2 linked regions of the Homo sapiens genome follow. The protein of the gene in region 1 purifies or fractionates together with the protein of each later gene. This does not show direct contact. Each region holds a gene or a part of one and is shown on either strand. Other genes may lie near its edges.

What was found.
Region 2: the proteins of PLB1 (region 1) and DEFA1B purify together in Homo sapiens (affinity purification with mass spectrometry, with the first as the bait; one large-scale study listed by BioGRID). This does not show direct contact.

The regions. Positions count from the first base shown.
Region 1 is NC_000002.12:28,597,015-28,600,830, forward strand, and holds part of PLB1 (phospholipase B1, membrane-associated isoform 1 precursor), read left to right. Parts: intron 1-990; coding exon 991-1,034; intron 1,035-1,637; coding exon 1,638-1,746; intron 1,747-3,794; coding exon 3,795-3,816. UniProt on the Homo sapiens protein: Calcium-independent membrane-associated phospholipase that catalyzes complete diacylation of phospholipids by hydrolyzing both sn-1 and sn-2 fatty acyl chains attached to the glycerol backbone (phospholipase B activity).
Region 2 is NC_000008.11:6,996,282-7,000,606, reverse strand, and holds DEFA1B (neutrophil defensin 1 isoform 2 preproprotein), read left to right. Parts: upstream 1-1,408; 5' UTR 1,409-1,484; intron 1,485-2,329; exon of another isoform or gene 2,330-2,364; coding exon of another isoform or gene 2,365-2,373; intron 2,374-2,843; coding exon of another isoform or gene 2,844-2,855; coding exon 2,856-3,030; exon of another isoform or gene 3,031-3,161; intron 3,162-3,610; coding exon 3,611-3,720; 3' UTR 3,721-3,841; downstream 3,842-4,325.

The sequences.
Region 1 (3,816 bases):
GCACTTTGGGAGGCTGAGGCGGGCGAATCATGAGGTCAGGAGATCGAGACCATCCTGGCTAACACGGTGGAACCCCATCTCTACTAAAAAACAGAAAAAATTAGCTGGGCATGGTGGCGGGTACCTGTAGTCCCAGCTACTCGGGAGGCTGAGGCAGGAGAATGGCATGAACCCGGGAGGCGGAGCTTGCATTGAGTGGAGATCACACCACTGCACTCCAGCCTGGGCGACAGAGCAAGACTCCGTCTCGAAAAAAAAAAAAAAAAAAATCCATTGACCTGGAATATAACATGCTGGGATTCGAAAAAGAGACACAGAAGAAAAAGAACAGTAAATACCATATATATGAATATCAGATTTTGGTAAAATAGAAATAGTACTTGTCTTCTGTGTGTCCTACTCAATTTATTAATAAATGCATAAAAGGAAACAAAATAGGGTGTACCTTGAAGTTAGATTAAATGAAAATTAGATGGGGCATTGAAAGGTAGTGAGCAGCCACCCTTCTGAACCTTCTATTGGAATTTACCTGACTGCTGAGCAGAGAAGAGCTTATCTATTTTCCAAAGGCTTCCAGCTCAAATTGGGTTTCAATGACTTTTAACAAGTTAATTAACCTCTGTGCACCTCATTTTCTTACTCTGTAAAATGGACATAGTCACATCTACATCACTGGCTTGTTGGGAGATGTGAAATCACAGAATCTAGTGCATGTCTGGGCACATAGTATATACTCAGCTAAGCATTCTCCCTCCTGATCTGGTAAAGAAACAGCTCTCTCATCTTCAAATCCTGGATTCGGTAGGGAACCAATATGTTAGGGGCTTAAAAATTTTCTCAGAATTCCTCAAACTCAGAGATGGGTCTGGCCCATCTCAAAGGTGCCGATGGGCACTAAGAAGGGTGGGGGCTGCTCTTGTGTAAAGTTCCTAGATTGATTCAACCAATATGTCTCTCCCTCTCATTCACTGGCTTGCTCACTCCCTACAGTGCAGGAGGGGACGGCTCCCTGGAGAATGTGACCACCTTACCTAGTAAGTAACCATCAGGGGCTTGAATCTGTCTACTGTTCCACCCATCTGGCCCCTTGGCTTCCCGAAAGTGCCTCCCAGGTAAGCAGCAAATGACATCTGCCTTATGGCCCAGCATTTAAGTAGGAGACAGGAGGCTATGAAAAAGCAGCCGAGGCAGGTAAAATAAACACCAGATTTAGAGCCTGAAGATCTGAGTTCAATCCCTGGTGCTTCAATCCCTGGTGCTGGGTTCAATCTCCGATGTGCTTGTCAGGTGACCTAGGGCAAGTTACCCGCTATTTTTAGCCTCAGGCTTTTCCAACAGGCCCAGGAGGTGCTGAGACAAATTAGGTAGTGACCCTTCAATGCACTGTGAATTGTATTAATACAATTTAATACAAGAGTGAGAGGCTCTTGCCACCCTGGCCCACCTAGTCATCAGGTCATGTCAACTTAGGGTGGTCCCAGCTTATGTCCAGGACACACACTGCCTCCCTGCCTCTCCCCAGGAAGCATGAGGATGATAACACAGCCCACTTTGGGGACCTAGGTCCCACAGTACCAGAGAAGCTATTCTGGCTTTCTGTTCTGAGCCGTCTGCATCCCATTCACCTTCTCTTCCAGATATCCTTCGGGAGTTTAACAGAAACCTCACAGGCTACGCCGTGGGCACGGGTGATGCCAATGACACGAATGCATTCCTCAATCAAGCTGTTCCCGGAGCAAAGGCTGAGTATGGCATTTGGGGAGGGAGGGAGCCTGCAGAGCAGGGAGTGGAATGTGGATAGTACCCTTTAAGACCATGGGGCTGGCCTCTATGTGCAAAGGGGCACTTAGCCACTTGTGAGGCTCAGGCTGCCCTCTTCCCTGCTGCCCCTGTGACGAAGGTTGTAATAGGCCAGAGAGGCTGTGGCCTTGGAGAGATGCGATGCCCCTATAGGTTCAACTCCTGACCTTGCCTTCATGTGCAGCATGTTCTCATAATTGGACGAATCGACTAACCTTATCCAATGTTTACAACTCACCAAGGCACAACAGTGCTAGAGAGATCCACTCCCCGCAGAACCTCACAAGTGGCAATTTCCCAAAAAGATCAGAGAGGGCCAACCAAATGGATGGGGCAAGCCTTCTGGCCCTAGAGGCATCTGGAGCAAAGAGTCATGTCCCCTCCCTAGCCCCATTATGGAGCTAACAAGAAATGGAATGGAGAAGCCCAGAGGTACCCAAAGAAGAGCAACTGCCCAGCCTCCTGGGGTGGGCTCCAAAGGGGCCCCCACCCTGCTCCTAGAGGCCCCAGCAGCCTAGGTCTTCTTGCTCTATGCAGCTCCTGGCTCAGCCATCTGAGCCTCTGTCACATGTCATCTTCTTGCTCAGGCCCACACCTTCTGGTTGAGGGGTGTGGCCCCCAGACCCACTCCCTCAGCCTGGAAAGACTCTTGGTAATAGAAACAGCTGGGGACAGATGGTCCCACCACCGTGTCCTAGGAGATCACCTTGCTATGGATCCATCCCACCCAGGTCTATAACGGGGCCCTGAACAAGTGGAAGTGGGGAGCACAGACGCCTGAAATCTATTCCTTCCATAAATTATAATTTTGGCCTTTTTTTAGATAGAGTCTCATTCTATCACTCAGGCTGGAATGCAGTGGCACAATCTCTGCTCACGGTAACCTCCGCCTCCCAGGTTCAAGTGATTCTTGTGCCTCAGCCTCCGAGTAGCTGGGATTACAGGCTTCTACCATCACGCCCAGCTAATTTTTGTATTTTTAGTAGAGATAGGATTTCACCTGTTGGCCAGGCTGGTCTCAAACTCCTGACCTCAAGTGATCCACCCACCTTGCCTCCCAAAGTACTTGGATTACAGGCATGAGCCACTGCACCTGGCCTTTTTTTGTTTTTAAGATGGGGTTTCACTCTGTCACCTAGGCTGAGTGCTATGGCATGATCTCAGTTCACTGCAACCTTCACCTCCCAGGTTTAAGCAATCATCCCACCTCAGCCTCCCTAGTAGTTGGGACTACAGGCATGTACCACTATACCTGGCTAATTTTTCTGTAATTTTTGTAGAGATGGGGTTTTACCATGTTGCCCAGGTTGGTCTCAACCTCCTGGACTCAAGCAATCCACCCACCTCAGCCTCCCAAAGTGCTGGGATTACAGGCGTGAGCCACCAGGCCTGCCACCTTCCATAAATTATAAACCCAAGCATGTGTAGAGCACATATGATTCCCTACCTCTTTTTGAAAGAACCATTTAGATAAGTTTACAAACAAAAGAATATACGTAAGAGAAAAATCGCAGCCATTGGAGGAAATAAAGAGGAAGCCTGTGTGTCGATATGAACATTTTTACGGTTATTATGTTTGAGCATCAAACTCAGCTTCCTGGCAGCCAGAGTGAAAAGAGGAAGCATGCTAGAAGTTTCATAGGTCTAATTTTAGGATCTAAACTAGTCTTCCAAAGGAGATGAATGGTCTCTTAGCATGGAATCCTAAAGGCCCTTTTGCATGTGGAGTCCCAGAAAGGTGACCATGAGCAACAAATATAATTGGCAGTACTTTGACTACAGCTGTAGGACAAACACATCATTGGCTTTTCAAATGATTATCTGTTGTAATAACTTTCCAGAAGAGGCAAGTCACTCCTGGTTTCTGAGCCTCGGGATCTCTGCCAGCTCATGCAGTGGGGATGATACTGTAGAAGCCTCTGGTTCAGGCCCTCTAGGAGGAAAACTATGGGCACTGTTCCTCAACAGAAGGATGGGTTTTCTCTCTTTCTCAGGGATCTTATGAGCCAAGTCCAA
Region 2 (4,325 bases), on another chromosome or scaffold:
GAAAGGCTCCAAGGAAAAGTGGGTGCCAGCCAACCCCATCATCAGTGTCAATATAGAAGCACTGGGAAGAAAGCCCTGAGTGACAAGATGTCAGTGTTCTCTATGATTGGCCTTGCTTGGTATCTTATGTACAAATGGCTTGTGGGGTAGCTGTTTAACCCAGGCCTGGCAGCCTAGAGGGCTGCTGGAACAGGACAGCCCTAGTCAGAATTTGTACCCCAGACTGGAAAACTGGGGAATTCCCTGTAAGCCCTGTTACAGGGGCTGCACCCCAGATACAACCTGACCTGTGTCCAAGGCGGGCAACTCAACCCTTAGATATTGAATGGGTCCCATGGCACCAATGCTTAAACACCAGCAGCCCTCACAACCACAGATCGTGTTTTAAGGATGAGGAGGTAGTTCTCTGGATGCACAGGCTTCAATCCAAATGGGCTCATGACGCCGCAGCACACACCCAGACTGCAGCCTGAAGAGTTGGAGCATTGCATTCACAGAAAGCATCCAGACATGATCATGGGCTCAGGGATACACCTGTTCTCCGATGTGTACCAGTGAAGGATGGAAACTCCTATGCCTCCCAGAAAGCACCACTCAAGCTTTTGCTGAATGCTTCTCTGAAGGCCCACAAGGCCTGAGAGGCTGTGCAACACCAGCAGTAAAGTGAATGCCCAGACTCCCACCTCCTTTCTTGGGTGGCCATCTGGAAAGGCCACTCCCACCCTGATGGCTAATGCCTCAGACCAGTTCTTGGCCCAGATGATCCTAGACAATTGTTTAAGCTTAAACTGTTCATTGGCCAAGCAAACAGGTGATAGTCACCTCTGGGGAACCACATGCCGCGTGTACATCCAGTACTCAGGAGAACCCAAAAATGTCTGTTCCACATAGCAACAGAAGCCCAGGTAGCACTCATTCTCACCTGGGTGTTCTCCAACATCCCAGCTCAGCCAAATGGCTTTCATTGCTTTTTATGGTTAGACCCCAGGTCCTCGGGACACTGCTTTAGAAACACATTCCAAATCCTCCTCTGTGTGTAGGTGGCATTCCTATCCCAATCTCTTTGCAGGGTGTATACTATGATACGCAGCCAGGCTGTCCCAGAGGCTTTAAATATTCCCTTGGTGCAGGTAGTTCAGCTTAGCCACAGCCAATGCATCACAGGGTCAACTGTGTTAGGAGCCATTGAGAATCCATAGTTGGTTGCTGCCTGGGCCTGGCCAGGGCTGACCAAGGTAGATGAGAGGTTCCTCTGTGGAGTTCTACTTTAACCTCACCTTCCCACCAAATTTCTCAACTGTCCTTGCCACCACAATTATTTAATGGACCCAACAGAAAGTAACCCCGGAAATTAGGACACCTCATCCCAAAAGACCTTTAAATAGGGGAAGTCCACTTGTGCACGGCTGCTCCTTGCTATAGAAGACCTGGGACAGAGGACTGCTGTCTGCCCTCTCTGGTCACCCTGCCTAGCTAGAGGATCTGTAAGTACTACAAAACTTAAACTTTACACTGAGTTTTCATTATTGAAGCTATGCCTCCAATCTGACCTCTGACTGTGGGGCCACCCCAGAGGGAACCAGCGGGCGAATCCCTGCTAGGAACGTCTGTCCGGACCTCTGGTGACTGCTGGGGACGATGGCTTCCAGCTAACTTAATAGAGAAACTCAAGCAGTTTCCTTCTAAACACACATGTCCTGGTTGACATGTCCAGTAGAGACTATCACAGGTCTTTGGAACATTCTTTTGAGAGAAACCTATTTAGGTCCTTGGTCTGTTTTTCAATCAGGTTGTTTGATTTTTGCTATTGAGTTGTTGGAATTCCTTATGTATTCAGATATTTGCCCCTTCGGCCATGTAGGTTTTGCAAATATTTTCTCTCATTTTCTGGGTTATCTTTTCACTCGGTTGATTGTTTCCTTTGCTGTGCAGATGCTTTAGCGTTAAATGAAGCCACACTTGTCTATTTTCCCTTTTATTGCCTGTGCCTTTGGTGTCATAGCCAAGAAATCATTACCTACATCAATGTCAAAAGCTTTATCCTTCTATACACTTCTAGTAGTTTATGGTTTCAGTTGTTACATTTAGGTTTTCAATTCATTCTGAGTTGATGTTTCTACATGGTGTGAGATAAAGATTTAAATACATACATATATAAAATCATGAGGTAGTGTACACTATAAATATACAATTGTTAATTGTTACTCAAGTCTAAGTAGAGGTGGAAATAATAAACTTTCTTTTTTTTACTTAAACCACTCTGTGTCACTGAGCTGATTTCACCTTTAGCCTGATAAAATCATTGTCCTCTCCACCCTGATTCCTACAGGAGACTACTCACCCCATAACCTCAAAAACCTCTTCATGAGGATGGTAAGTCACCTGAATCCTGAAGTGAATTACTCGCTATTCCATTGGAACTCATATAGGACACCAGAATCTAGACCTCCAGAGAACAGCAGGACCCATCTTCAGAAAATAAGAAGCATTTGTTCCCTGAGCCTGTTGAATCAAAGTGCAATTTCTATTCTTTTTGGAATGTTAAAAAGTGAATCATAATATTTAAGCAGGTGAACCCACGAGTAACATAGCAGGGTCTTTCTTGTCATTATTAGCTCCAACCTAGCACAGACATTAAAGGTACAGATGTATACTAGCATGAAACTGGGAGAACAGGAGCATTCGAGCAACCTTGAGACCAATGGGCCTCTCTTATAAAATGCACACCTCCTCTCACTGAGATTGAGGAAGGTTTCTTGTCTCCGAGCCTTCTCCCAGTAGAGCTATAAATCCAGGCTGGCTCCTCCCTCCCCACACAGCTGCTCCTGCTCTCCCTCCTCCAGGTGACCCCAGCCATGAGGACCCTCGCCATCCTTGCTGCCATTCTCCTGGTGGCCCTGCAGGCCCAGGCTGAGCCACTCCAGGCAAGAGCTGATGAGGTTGCTGCAGCCCCGGAGCAGATTGCAGCGGACATCCCAGAAGTGGTTGTTTCCCTTGCATGGGACGAAAGCTTGGCTCCAAAGCATCCAGGTGAGAGAGGCAGGCATGCAGAGCTGCTAAGTCTAGAGGGAAGGACGGGAGAGAGGTTCCAGAGTTGGGTCTCAGCAGTCTATGTCACTGAGGTGGCTTCACTTAGAATCTCTGGGCATTGATTTTCTCATCTAGAAATTGAACAGAGAGCCAAATAAACATGAGAAACTTTATTTCTCCAAAGACTTGATTCCAAGAAACGTCTGTGAAATTCACTAAGTTTCAGATATGAAGAGACAGACTAGTTATTTCTGGATCTAAACAAGTAGACTTAGTTGTAAAGAGAACATTTTACTCTATCTACAGAAGAGCTTTTAAAAACTGCAGCCAAGCCTGAGGATATGTTCAGGTGTGTGTGTGATGGGGCAGGAATGCAAAAATGAGAGCAAAGGAGAATGAGTCTCAAATTCTGAGTGACAAGCACTGCTCTGCGTGTTTATTCCTATCGACTGAGGTTGTTCGTGCTAACGGCTGCAATGCAGCCAGCATCACCTGTCAGCTAGCATGTGACTTCCCCGAGATTCTTTTTCTTACCCACTGCTAACTCCATACTCAATTTCTCATGCTCTCCCTGTCCCAGGCTCAAGGAAAAACATGGCCTGCTATTGCAGAATACCAGCGTGCATTGCAGGAGAACGTCGCTATGGAACCTGCATCTACCAGGGAAGACTCTGGGCATTCTGCTGCTGAGCTTGCAGAAAAAGAAAAATGAGCTCAAAATTTGCTTTGAGAGCTACAGGGAATTGCTATTACTCCTGTACCTTCTGCTCAATTTCCTTTCCTCATCCCAAATAAATGCCTTGTTACAAGATTTCTGTGTTTCCACCTCTTTAATGTGTGATATGTGTCTGTGTCAAGACACTTGGGATACACGTACCAAAACGCAAAATCAAATTTTTGAACAATATAAAATTCCAAATTCTAGGAATTTCAAGCAGGAGTTTGGGCTTCAGATCCAAATTGAAAAGAAGGCCCATATGACACCACTGATTTCCCCACCCACTGCTCTGCCTTTTCACCCTGCCTCATTTTCTCTGGATCCACTCTCAAAGAGCTCGCGTGTGCTGGGCAAACAATCGGTGTCAGCTTACATTTCATGCAGTCACAAAATCATTACTTCTCCGGGAAAAAAAAACCATCCTCTGTGCTAAAGAATTGGAGTTTCATTGAACAATGTCAGATTGTACATTTTCCTTTTAAGACATAGGGTTACATGAGATCCACGGAAAAAACTTTCATTCAGAGGGAAATGGGTTGTTAGCAAAGGCGGGATACATGGAACAGAAAGCACAGCA